Regions from separate parts of the Homo sapiens genome. Here regions 1 and 2 are each linked to region 3. The links come from fine-mapping of genetic effects on gene expression. A gene starts in region 3. Each other region holds a variant in brackets. All regions are shown on one strand. Distances are between the middles of the regions.

Region 1 (4,242 bases), 120 kb after region 3:
GCAGGGGGACTGGTAGAGTAGCAGACATGTGGCTGGGCCAGCAAGAAGGGGCCTTTTTATATACAGTGGGCCCTCGACAGTCAAAGGTTCCACATCCATGGATTGAACCAATCACAGATCAAAATTCTCCAGAATAAAAAATTGCATCTGTACTAAACATGTACAGATTTTATTCTTGCCATTATTTCTTAAACAATACAGTATAACAGCTATTTGCATGGCATTTACAGTGTATTACATATTACAAGCAACCTAGAGATAAGCAACCTAGAGATAAGCAACCTAGAGATAATATTACATATTATATAAGCAACCTAGAAAACAAAAAGATGTGCATAGGTTATATGCAAATACTATGTATGCCATTTTATATCAGGGACTTGAGCACACATGGATTTTGGTATTGGGGGGAGGTCCTGGAACCAGTCGCCCCATGGATACCAAGGAATGACCTGTAGTTTTAACTTTTGAACTCTGTAAATATTTTACATATTCAAAGATAAAACTGAATTTCAGGAAATAAGCCTGCAAAGTGATGGGCAAAAGGAAATACCACTATTGTGAATTCTGAAGCATTTTAGTTCAGACATCAGAATGCTGTCACTAGATCTGAGTTGCTGGGCTGGCCTTGCGGTGAGACACCTCAGAGTGAAGACACCAGTGTAAACAATGGCAATGAGTGGTTTGGTCTTAACCAATCTTAACCAACAAACTTTTCTGAGCTTGTGCTGTGTGCCAGACACTGCTATATGCTTTGTCTCCATTGTCTACTTTATCCTCACATCAGCCCTGAAAAGCAAGTCTTATGATGCCTTTGTACCAAGATTACAAGATTCATTGAGAAATTAGCATTTGAACCCAGGTTTCTTTAATACCACTGTAAATGGTAATTTTTCTTAAGGGCCTGCTATGTGCCGAGCACAGTCCTGGGTACTCACTCAGTCTTTAATCCAGAGTGTGGAAACAGCTTTATGCAAAGAAATGGGGCTTTCCTTCATGCAAAGCAATAGAGGCCAAACTTGAGATCTGCCTGCTTCTTCCTGATCTCGTAGATGTTTAAGAACAGAACTTAATCACTTTGGATAGATCCAAATTGACAGGAGATAACCCCTGGGAAGAGTCACACAGGAAGCTGTTAATCATAATTATAAGAAGCAAGATGTGAATAATAGATTTTTGTAACCTTGGGCACCTAGATAGACTTCTCGAAGTCTGACTAGTTATTTGAGAAGTCAGAGACTGGGCTAGAGCACGGTGTCTCAACTTCAGCACTACTGACATTTTAGACTGGATAAGTCTTTGTTGTGGGGCAGGTTCTGTGCAGTGGAGGATATTTAGCAGCATCCATGGCTTCTAACCACTACATGCCAGTAGCATTCACCCCTCCCCAATGTTGTGGCAACCAAAAAAATGTCTCCAGACATTGCCAAATGTCCACTGGAAGAAGAAAACGGTAGGAGCAAGATGGTCCCTGGTTGAGAACCACCGGACTAGGTGATCTTTGAGGTCCCTTCCTTCTTTGACAATCTGTAACTCTGGGAACTCAGGCCAGGACATTGCTAGGATAAAAGAGTAAATGCAAGGGGCGGTGAGCTGAGGGAATTCCCTCCATCCTTCTGAAACAGGGCCAGGAGACAGGACAGTGACTGTGTTGGGAAGAGTCTCTCTTGAAATGAAGTCTCCTTTAACTGATAACTCTCATTTTCACTGCAGCTTCTGTACCTAAGAAGGCAGGTCTTGAGGATGCCAAGGCAGTACCTGAAGCACCGGGGACAGTGGAATGCAGCAAAGGCCTGTCCCAGGAGCCAGGCGCCCACCTGGAGGAGAAGAAAACCCCAGAAAGCTCCTTGAGCTCTCAACATTTAAATGAATTAGAGAAGAGGCCAAATCCGGAGAAGGTGGTGGAGGAGGGACGAGAGGCTGGTGAGATGGAGTCCAGCACCCTGCAGGAGAGCCCCAGGGCCAGAGCCGAAGCTGTGCTTCTCCATGAGATGGTAAAGTGCA[T/C]TCTCCACCTGCTCCAGCCAGGTGGAGTTATTTTTTCCCAAGGGCTCTTGGTACAATTTAAAGTAAATTGAAAAAAAATTTTTTTTTGAAAAATCAGTTTCTGCCAAAGGGACTTTAAGAGACAAACTTGTAATGAAGGTCTGAGATTTGTTTTGCAGTGGACTTTTCAGAAGTCCTGCAGTGATGGGGAGGAAACATCCTGTTCAGATTCCCTAATACAGACTCAACTCTAAATATTCCTGACCTGAGGTCACCATAAGCCAGTAACATGTCTTTGGAATGTAATGACATTCAATCCCAGAAGCAGCACAAGACCTGCTTGTCATACCCCAGTCCCAAATATCATGATCAGTCACAGAGTCCAGCCTTCTTCTTCTGGACATCCTGGATGGGCAGTTGTCTACACTTATTTCCAAAACAATAAATATTTCCAGGATCCATTCTTTCCTTCCGTGGGCTCTGGAGAAGTTAAAATACAATGCTGGAGCTGACTAAACCTTGTCTACTTTTTAGAGGTGGAATTTTCCAAGAAGGTTTTTATGGGATGTCCTTCAATAGAAAGTGTGAGGAGGTTTTCCAGGGATACCCAAGGAGGAGTCCTGCATTTGAGAGGCAGCTCTGTGACCAGAGGAGGGCACCAGAAAGGAGGATGCCTTTGAACTTGCTTCCAGAGTCTTGATTTTCAGGACGTGCACAAAAGAACCATGTGCTGGGAGTTAGGGCAGAGTGGAGTGCCATGGAGGCCTCAGGATGGCTGAGCTAGGGTCTCTATAAGATATATTGGCATTTGTTGAAGGGGAAAGATGAAGAGATTCATATGGGGATTGATTGAATTATTACAGGGAGGACCCTGTAGGAATGAATGGCATTGCTTTGAGAAGCAGGTAAAGTTAGTGCTGGAAAGAGAACCGGGTGGATTCAAGGGAACAAGTAAAGGCATCAGTTCATTCATTCATTCAAAACATGTATTTAACATGAACTTTGTGCCAGGCACTGGCATCACTGTAGTGAACAAGGCTTTAACCATCCCTGCCTTCTTGGAGCTAACAGCCTAGTTGGGAAAAGATTGAACAAGTAATTCCTGGGGTGCTATGGAAGCATGGAGTGCATGGGAGCACATAGCAAGAGGACCCAACCTAGTCAGAGGGAGGAGGCATGCCACAAGGGTCGGGGAAAGCTTCTCTGTAGAGTGCATATTCAGGCAGATAACTTAGATGGAAGAAAGGGGCAGTGGGTGGACTAGGAAAGGAGAGACCTCCAGGCAGAAAGAATAAGATGTGCCATGAATCCAAGGTAGAAAAGAGCATTCCCATTCAAGGAATGGGAGCAAGGCTGGGATAGCTGGGCTGGAGAAAGTGAGACTCAGGGGGATGCAGGAGCCAGGACTTCTTGGAAGGGATTTGGGGTTTAACCTAAGGGCAATGGGAAAGCATATGAGGTGTTCAGAATTTTGTCTTTAATGGGTCATTCTATTCTGTGTGGAGAATGGCTTGAAGAAAGGAGGCACGAATGCATCAGGAGGGGAGTATGTGGTAAGCCAGGAGAGAAAAGCTGGAGGTGTAGACTAGTGTGGGGCCATGGGGATAGAAATGAAGGGCTACAATCACTATTTAGAAGGTAGAATGGACAGGACTTGTTGAAGGATTAGATAAGGGCTGAGAAAGAAGGAAACGTCAAAGGCACCTCATAGGTTTCTGGTTTGAGCAAAGAGATGCACTGTGGGTCCACTTACTGAGAGGGCAGAGTGAAGTGGAAGGGAGTTTAGATGTTCATTTGTTCATCTAAATTTATGGTTTCTCAGTATTGATTTCTTAGTAATATCCCAGTTAATGTAGGTGCTGAGGAGAGTAAAGAGATGAAGCTGTCCCCGCTCCGAAGGAGGGCACAGTCTAGTAGGCAAAATAGAAATGTTCACAAATAAATGCAGTGTGGTAGAAGCAGATTAATTTTGATAAAGTAATCCCACAGAGATATGTGAAAGAAATAATCCAAAAGAAAACACTGAATCCATTACAGTTCAGCAGACCCTTTATTGAGCCCCCATTCACAGTATACCAGGCACCTTTTGGCCTTGTTGAATCAAAGATGAATAAACACAATCCTGACCTCAAGAAGCTCACAGTCCATTGGGAATAATAAGACAAGCATTAAAGTAACTGTAATATGAAACAACAAGTGATTAGAGCTAGGTGAGAAGGGACGAGAGGTCAGCAGCAAAAATTACTTTCACAAAGGCCT
Region 2 (4,242 bases), 100 kb after region 3:
CTTTTTGACCGTGATAACTTGGAAGAGTACTGGCCATTTGTTTAGTAGAATATACCTCAGGGAGAGTTTGTCCAGTGTTTTCTCATGGTTAAACTGAGGTTAGGAATTTTTGCAGAAATCCTACAGAAGTGATCCTGTGCCAGACTCAGTGTGTTATATTAGGAGGTACATGATGTCAATATCTTATTGCGTGTGAAGAGAACTGTGATCCCTTGGTTAAAGTGCTCTTTGTCATGAATTTTAGGATCCTCTGATGGTTCTTGGATGTAACAATTATTCCTATGGCATTTGCTAAATGATGATTTTCTATTAATTGGAATTCTGCTGAAAAGACCTGTCCCTTCTCCCCCAGGGTCGTGATTTTTAAAGAAGGATGCTACCCCATGGGACTTATTTCTGAGTAGTGCATAGAAATTGATACAGGAAGGAACTGAGGGAACCATATATAGTGGGGAATTTAACCAATGCAGCTGAATATTATGTCAGGAAAGAGAAGACCAAGGAAATTTTTCATAATGATCTTTAGTGTTATAGATTGAAAGTATGATAAAAATGGAGGCAATAGTTATGAAACCAAGGTGTAAAAGAGAAATGTACAAATGCAGTGAGCAAACTTTGACTGGATCCTGGAAAAAAAACCAAAAAAACAAAAAAAAGAGCTGACCGAGCACAGTGGTTCGTGCCTGTAATCCCAACACTTTGGGAAGCTGAGGTGGGCAGATCACTTGAGCCCAGGAGTTCGAGACCAGCCTGAGGAACATAGCAAAACCACATCTCTAAAAAACAAAAATAAGAAAAAACAACAAAAGACAATTTGGGGAACAAAGAGGGAAAATGTGGATATAGAAGATATTAAATGATATTAAGGAATTATAAATTTTCATAGTATGCTAATGGTTCTTAGGAGACATATACTAAAACTAAAGTATTCAAGGATGAAGCAGCAAAATATTGACACTTTAAAATAACTAGCAAATTATAGGTAGGTAGATAAATATCAATATAGAAATAGATAATGCAAATATATGGCAAAATGTCAATAATTATCAAAACTAAGGTGGTAAGTTTAAGGGTGGTAGGTTTCTAAATGTTTGAAATTTTTAATAGAGATTTGGGGGAAAATTAATTCCTATAGGAAATATGTGAGATAATATTTTTAACGACTTTCCTCAAACCCGGTGATAATCACATGCCAAGGATCAGGAAGTCCAGATGTTAGAAACCTTCGTGTTTGCCTGTTAGAGTAAGGAGGGGTGTCACAGTACAGCAGTTACAACGATTTAGGCTGTAAATAATGGCAAATCAATTCAATCAACTTATGCAGTGAGGGAATTTACTGGCTTCTGCAGTTGAACACCCTGATAGAGGGAAGGCTTCAGGGGGTTTAATACAGGGGCTCTGTCATGATTTCTCCATGTTTTCCCCAGCTGTCCCAGCTGTGTCCCCCTTTGGGTCAGCTTCATCCCCAGACTGGCTTCCTTTGCTGTGGCAAAGTGGCTGTAGTAGTTCTAGGCTTTCCCTCTGACTATCCCACTAGGTCCAGAGGGAGAAAGAACATTTCTGGTAGCTTGCTCCTAAGAGCAGGGACCCTTCTTTTCCAGAAGGCCTCATCAAAATTCCCCTTGTCTCGGTATCCTTCACTGAGCCACATGGTTC[G/A]GTCCCTGTTGTCAATGGTGTGCCTTGTGCTGATTGGCTTCAGCCTGGGATCCTGAGCCAACCCCTTGCATGAGGAATGGGACTTACACCCAAGAAGTACAAGAGCTATGTGCGAAGGGCAGAAGGGAAATGGATTCTGGGTCTGCATCTGTAATCATCGTATGGCAAAACTCAGCTTACACAAAATGGAAAGATAGCCTGAATGAAGAGGACAGGTTGCCACAAGTATGGCAAGACAGATGCAAATCAGAAAATAGGATTCTTAAGGGAGAAACTGGGGAGAAGAGTACCTGACCAGAAACTCCTAATCTATGAAAAGAGATTTGCTTAAGCACGTCAAAGAGAGAATTTCAGTTGCAGAATCAGTGGTACAGCCATGAAAGAGGTTCACCAGTAATGAAAAGTCAAAAAATAACAAAACAAAACAACAAAAAGGAAATAAGTGGTTTGCTTTGATCTTAGGAAGATTTCCACCCCCATGTGGTTTTCAAAAAGAACAATTCCCAGGCACTGGATCAAATGTTGGTAAACTCACAGGCCAGGGCTTCTCACACCTGGACCTCAGAATCGCCCACAGAGTGGATCACACCATAGCAATTTTGCCTCAGAAGTTCTGTGGTGAGGTCTGAGTATTGGTAATTTTCTAAAAGCTCCCCAGGTGATTCTGATATGCAGTCAGTGTTGAAAGTCACTGGCTTATGATCTTATGAACAAACTAATCAGATCTTCACTAACTGGATGCAGCGGTGAAATTCAAGAACTGTCAGTGTCAATATAAGTGGCTCCCTGTGGCCTTAACTATTGCCTGAAGTGGTTTCTTTTTACCAGAAGAATATTGCTGGCAACTCTGGAAAATAAAGACCAATAGGCTTTATGGTCATAACTTTAGTGGAATCTGTGATTAAAGTTAGGCCATTGAACCCTGTAACAAATGTAATCCACCAGTGTGGTCTCTGTAAGTGGCACGTGAGCTTGCTGTTGAAATATGCATGTGAAAAGGGGAACCAGTGGATTAACATATGTAAATATATGCTTTAAAATTCCATAAATAAAGACATTTAAAAAATTAATTCACTATGAATAGTATTGGGATTGTTTTGGGTGGGGAGGAGTTGGTGAGGGGGTGTTTAACCATATCTAGAAAATGAAACAGGTAAGAAATAAAGTATAGGAAAAAATGGAGAACTGAATTAAGATGCACAAACTTTAGAGCCTTCCAGATATGTGTATTTTAATTGATTCCATTTAAGTTTTTTGTACATTATTAAAGAGAAAGAAGAGTTCAGAGAACCCTCCAAAATGAACTGTGAGCAGAGAAATCTCAAAGCCATACAGCTATAGCAGGTCCAGGCTCACCTCTGAGTAACGCAGCTAAGAGAGGAGGACTCAAGGACACAAAGGCTGCCAGAAAACTGGGGAGTACACCTCTGTGAGGCCAGGCCAAGGTCCCAGACAGAAACATGTAATATAAATATAGTCATAGGCCACAGGAGCCTGAGCTCTTAGTTAATCTCCAGAAAGGAGGGCAGGGAATGCTTGGGGACTGTCCACCAAGCCACATCTCTGATGTGCTGCTGTGCTCCGCAAGGCCACAAGGAACTGCATCATGAGAAAGAGGCTTCAACACCAAAGGTGGACACCGATGGACCTACAGACAGAGCTGCTACCCGGCCTCTGTGACACAGTCAGGGGCGCCTGGTCACTGCCTATCAAGGTTGACATGTGGAAACCAGAGAAATTCCAGAAATACAGCTCCTGGAAAACAAAGGCAGTGCATGTCCTAGAATACACAAACAAAGGGATGCTGACCAGGTAGTTTCAGGGCAGTAAATCAATTTATAGATTTGTGGAAATAGCAGATCTTCAAAGGATAAGAATTCTGGGGCACATTGGAAGTGAGGAGGTGAAAGGCAATCTCTGCCTTTGCAAAGGATTTGCATGGAGGTGGCTGGGCGTCCCACAGTGGGCCCCAGAAAGAGAGAAGCCTCAAGCTGGGAGACCAAGGGGCTAATTCAGAACCTCCCAGAAGGAGCAGGTTTGGATCAAGGAGGAAGAACAGGGGAACTTTAAACAAGAGACAAAAACAAGCTTGAGTTACAGCTCAATTTTGGTTAAAGCCAACTCTAACTGCTTCTCATAGAACCTTCTCCTGTCTTCCCTTTTGTTGCTGAGCCCTGATCCATCCTGAATAGCAGCAACAACAATCAATAATTATTACTTTTTAATGGGTACTTACTCTATTGCAGATTAGTACAATATAATTACCTTATAGCCATTACCCATTTAATCCTCACAACAACTCTATTTTTTCTCATTTTACACATGATAAAACTGGAGTTTAGTTTAGCTGTCACTTTGGGAGGCCAAGGCAGAAGGATTGCTTGAGTCTAGGAGTTTGAGACCAGCCTGGGCAACACAGTGAGACCCTGTTTCTAAAAAATTTTTTTAAATTAGCCAGGTTTGTTGGTGTGTGCCTATAGTCCTAGCTACTCCAGAAGCTAGGGCAGGAAGATTGCTTGAACCCAGGAGGTTGAGGCTGTAGTGAGCTTATGATCACTCTACCACACTCCAGCCTGGGCAACAGAA
Region 3 (4,242 bases):
CCCACTAGGAGTTACTTTAATAATTGAGGAGTGGATGGTCCTCACTGAGTGGGCCTGGAAAGGAATAAACCAAGCTGAGAGGCATGGTGAAGAGCTCATCGTCTGGGCGGGACTACCTTGCAGGTGGGAGAGGAAGGAGACAAATGAGTCTGTGGTTACTTGAAGACATTTCACCAAGATGACTGGGGCAAATGCTTCTCAGTGTCACTGAGAGATGGAAAATGAAAAACAGGAAAGACAATTCATAGAGGTTGGGCTGCAAACTCAAGTGGCAGCAGAGGCCAGGCAGGTGCAAAAGGGGGAAGACAGGCCGTGGGGTCTGCAAAACTGCAAGAGTCGTCTCTCTAAAGAGGGTGCCTCCAAGGGGCCTGCCACAACTCAGCATCAGCCGTCCTTGCCATATGGGAATGCACTTGTGGTGTAACTAGATCTTCCATTTTTTCAAGAGAAGCCAGAAATTCAGATTTTATGTGAAATCTCTTAACTTTTTAATGCTAGCTACTAATTTTAAAACGTGTTAAAGCATGGTGTCTGCCAGCCAAGTACATCTATGGGCCAGATCTGGCAGGGTGGCTATCAAGTTGTGACCTCTGACATAGAGAAAATGTCAAGGGTCAAAGTTCATAGACTGTTAAGGTTACATAGAGAGACAGTGACTGTAAAGGGATTCAGTACCTAAAATGCTACGGATGCAGCTTTGCCAGCAATCTGAGCTGTATGACATATGCCCCTATCCTTCAAGCCTGTATATGGATTTGAATTTATACAGGAAGTTTCATCTAATCCTCAAATGGTTAAATCACAAGAATTTGAGTGCTTTCTGTGTGCTGAGTACACAGAAGTTAAAGAATTTAAAATCTAACTGGAGAAGAAAAAAACATGCCCTCTTGAAACAACTTGAAACAAATTATGAAAGAACCTGGGAGACTGCTTTCTTCACATTTCATGTGTCAGAGGCATCTTAAATCCTGGTTTGTCCCCCCCAAATCACTTCCATTTAGAAAACTTTGCAGTAGTGTGTGTGTGTGTCTTGAATATGTAACCAGAAATCTGATTTCCTGGGCAGTGGTTACAAAGCTGCAGCCTCTCTTTGCCCAGGGGTATCTTTACCCCAGAGTGGGAGGGGAGTGAGCTGAGGTGGGGGTGCACGAACGCTGCAGAGGAGGTTGGGATGGGAGTGGCCGGCGTGAAGCCACTGCCTGTCAGGTTTCTCCGCTGGAGTCCCCTGTTTGTCTCTGTCATTACTCTTTAAGTATTTGCGTAGCAGACAGGCGGGCACCGAAATAGAAAGTGTCAAAGATACGATGACAATGAGGATAAAACCAGGGCAGAGGGTTCTGAAAGTCCCAACCAGCACGGTCCCCGCAGAATGCCAGCGCACCTCCTCCCGCCACTTCAAAGAGCCGGCTCGGCGGGGCAGGAAGCGGCGGCTGCGGCTGCGGGTCCTGCGAGAAGAGCGCGATTTCCTCCGGGGCTGCCCAGTTATCTCTGGAGTCGCAGAACTGCTCTCGGGAGAACGCGTTCTCTACCCCAACCCCGTGCTCCTCAACCCACCCACCTACTTCCTCTAGCTCCACACACTCACAAGCACCGAGCTGCCAAAAATTTCCACCCACCGCCCCCCTCCCTAGCTAACTTCCTTCCAGCATTTCCTGAGCTGGATGATCCTAGGATTTGTAAGACAGGAAAAAAAGGAAGGCGTGAGGGCGGGCAGCAGCGACAGGATGCTTGTTTTTCGCTCTACCAAAGTCGTCTGAAGGCGAGACAGCGGGCCCAGGGCGCAGGACCCACCGCAGCCCCCTGGGCAGTCTCCTCGCCCCGCGTCCGCGTCGTCTCCGGGGCACTTAGTAAGGGGTGGGGAGAGCTTGCCCTCCCTCTTAAGCTGAGGAGAAACACCCGAAGACACCGCAGGAGCCTGTGAAAGTCCCTAGGACTCCAAGTGAGGAAGTGACACTCCCAGGCGAGCCGGCCCGCGGCTGCCAGTCTGCACGGCCTCGGCACGGCGGCCCCGGAGCGGCGCGGGGTGGATCTCAGGCTCTGCCGGCCCGCGGCCCGCGGGGTCCATGCGCAGGGCCCCCAGCCCAAGTTCTTCCATCTTCCGATGCGGCCCCCCAGAGCCGCGGGGCAGCCGGTGATCTAGCCCGGGAGCCCATCTTACAGCGGTGCCAAGCAGAGGGGCGGCAGAGACGGAGGGGCAGCCTCTTTGGGACTAACTCATGAAGAACAAGGGTGCTAAGCAGAAGCTGAAACGAAAGGGAGCCGCCAGCGCGTTTGGCTGTGACCTGACGGAGTATCTGGAAAGCTCGGGACAGGATGGTAATGTGCCTTGGCCTTTCTCCCCCGCCCCCACCTTCTTTTTGTTTGAGGGAGAGACGGACTCTCTCGAGTTGTGATAGAGTCGGTTCACAAGTTAATGTATTCCAGGCCTGTGCGCTCATTGCACTTTTTTTTCTTTTTTTTTTTTAAAGAACATAAACGATTCTTAAGGTGCACAGCGCTGCTGTCCCGACGCGCAGAGGCTGCTGTGTCAGTCCTTCCGTTTGCCTCACACAAGCTGTTAATGGGTGGTACTGCCGCAAGTTTACCGGGCCACCTCAGGGGATGGGGGTGGAAGCTGCAGAGGTCCCAATCCTAAACTTGGCACGTTGGAAGGGAGGGAGGAGGGGTGGACATGTGGGATGGTGATCAGTGGTCTTGCCTGGGTACAAAATCATGACCGCCTTAGCTGTCCCTCCTGGGCTCTCCAATTTCGTCTGCTCACATCTTTTTTTATTAATGTGTTAGAAGGCAGTTGCGGGTGGGGGGTGGGGGAGGATCCTGGCTGGGGGAGTGGTTGCACAAACATTTCTGAATTTCTGAGCTGATGCCAAATATATAGTACCTCCACCCCCTTTCCACAACCCCCTCCCCGCCCTGCAAGACCTTTTCCCTCCTCTTGGCTTTCAGATTAACATTTGGTGTGTCAGACAAGAAGAGTGTTGTAAAAAGGTCAGAGGGCCTCCATTTTTAAATAGTTTAGGGTAAGTAGAGAAAAGGAAAACTTCTCTGTTTTCAAGGTCAGATGGGGGTAGGGGGGAGTTGGGGATGGGGGAATCCAGCGGAGACAATTTAAACATTTGTTGGGGAAGGGGGAAAGAAAACACCATCTAGATTACAATAACAGCGTTTGAGCTTAGAAGTGTTTAATCATAGGAAAGTTGGAAAATTGAGCATTAAATGACTCCTTTTGTAAGGTTGACTGGTTTTGCACTTACCCTTGACAAAAAGGCCTTGTCTTCAGAAGCTTCAGCGAGAGGAAAATAGCCTACTATATAGGCCATGTGTTTATACATAGATAGATACAACAAAGGGGAAAACTAAGGGCTGTGTAACCGTGCGGAATAATTCTGCCTCCAGGAAAATAATCTCAAAACCTATTTGATTAGTCCATATCGAATATGCATTTCAAAAACAGTGCAATGCTTTTGTTTCACTTCTGTGTTTTGGGAGACTCAGCACCACCTAGTAATTTGCAGTGGTGTGATATTCCTGTGGTATTCTAGAGTTCAGTCTGCTGTGTCATTAGGACAAATAGCTTAGGATTTTAGAGCTTGGAGAACCACAGGTTTCAAAACTGACTCTTTTGAAATTGATGCATAACTTAACACTTCATTGAATCCTCACCAACCATCTGGAGAGGTAGATTTGAGATAAAAATCACTTGGTTTGAGTTTTTTTGAGTGTGAGAAAACTCCAAGTATGCCTCTTAACCACTATCGTCAGAAGTTTACAATGAAAGGTTCCTCTTCACCTATTTTTGCAGGGGCCTTCAAGTTAACCTCCAGGTACACTAGGAATGCTCCTGGGATGCCACCTTTCACCATGCGGGTGTTATTCTGGCCCCTCCCTCAAATCTGTGAGAGTTGCATAGGGGTGCTTGCCAGCCCTGTTCGTTCTTACAAACTAATAGATTATAGGATGAGCCAGAACCCCAGGGTTCTATGAAGATATGTCAAAGGCAGCTTTAGGCAGCTGTTCTTTCACCTGCTTTATATTTTGGGCTTCTGCATATGTTTCATTTAGACAAAAAAAAACAGAGACTACTGCTTAAAAGAATGGCAAACCAGTACCCCGGGTTCCCCACCCTGGGGAGGGGGAAAAGAAGCCCAGAGGGGTAAATTGGCCTGCCTGAGGTTGTACAGCTAATCATGAAGGATCGGAGGGCCCTCCCTGGCCTGTTAGGTTCCTCTGCCCTCCCTGGCT

What was found. PIP is the estimated chance that this variant, and not a neighbour inherited with it, causes the effect. A credible set is the group of variants that fine-mapping cannot tell apart.
Region 1: its variant is the best candidate, but not a certain one, in a credible set for the expression of ARHGAP31 in T cells (TOPMed, PIP 0.66).
Region 2: its variant is the best candidate, but not a certain one, in a credible set for the expression of ARHGAP31 in whole blood (INTERVAL, PIP 0.76).

What each region holds. Positions count from the first base shown.
Region 1 is chr3:119,407,783-119,412,024 of GRCh38, forward strand. ARHGAP31 (Rho GTPase activating protein 31) reads left to right here. Exons shown (of 12, transcript NM_020754.4): 11 at 1,714-1,994. It overlaps LOC124906273 (a long non-coding RNA gene), which reads right to left and starts at 1,745. Exons shown (of 2, transcript XR_007096027.1): 1 at 1-1,745. The variant T/C (reference allele first, on the strand shown) is at 2,005.
Region 2 is chr3:119,394,012-119,398,253 of GRCh38, forward strand. The region is part of intron 8 of ARHGAP31 (Rho GTPase activating protein 31); the gene reads left to right. LOC124906273 (a long non-coding RNA gene) reads right to left here. Exons shown (of 2, transcript XR_007096027.1): 2 at 2,862-4,242. Among named protein-coding and RNA genes, the nearest start is that of TMEM39A, 67 kb to the right of the region's middle. The variant G/A (reference allele first, on the strand shown) is at 1,657.
Region 3 is chr3:119,292,689-119,296,930 of GRCh38, forward strand. It overlaps ARHGAP31 (Rho GTPase activating protein 31), which reads left to right and starts at 1,695. Exons shown (of 12, transcript NM_020754.4): 1 at 1,695-2,316. The coding sequence starts at 2,217. RefSeq lists an enhancer at 1,118-1,167 and a silencer at 2,008-2,127.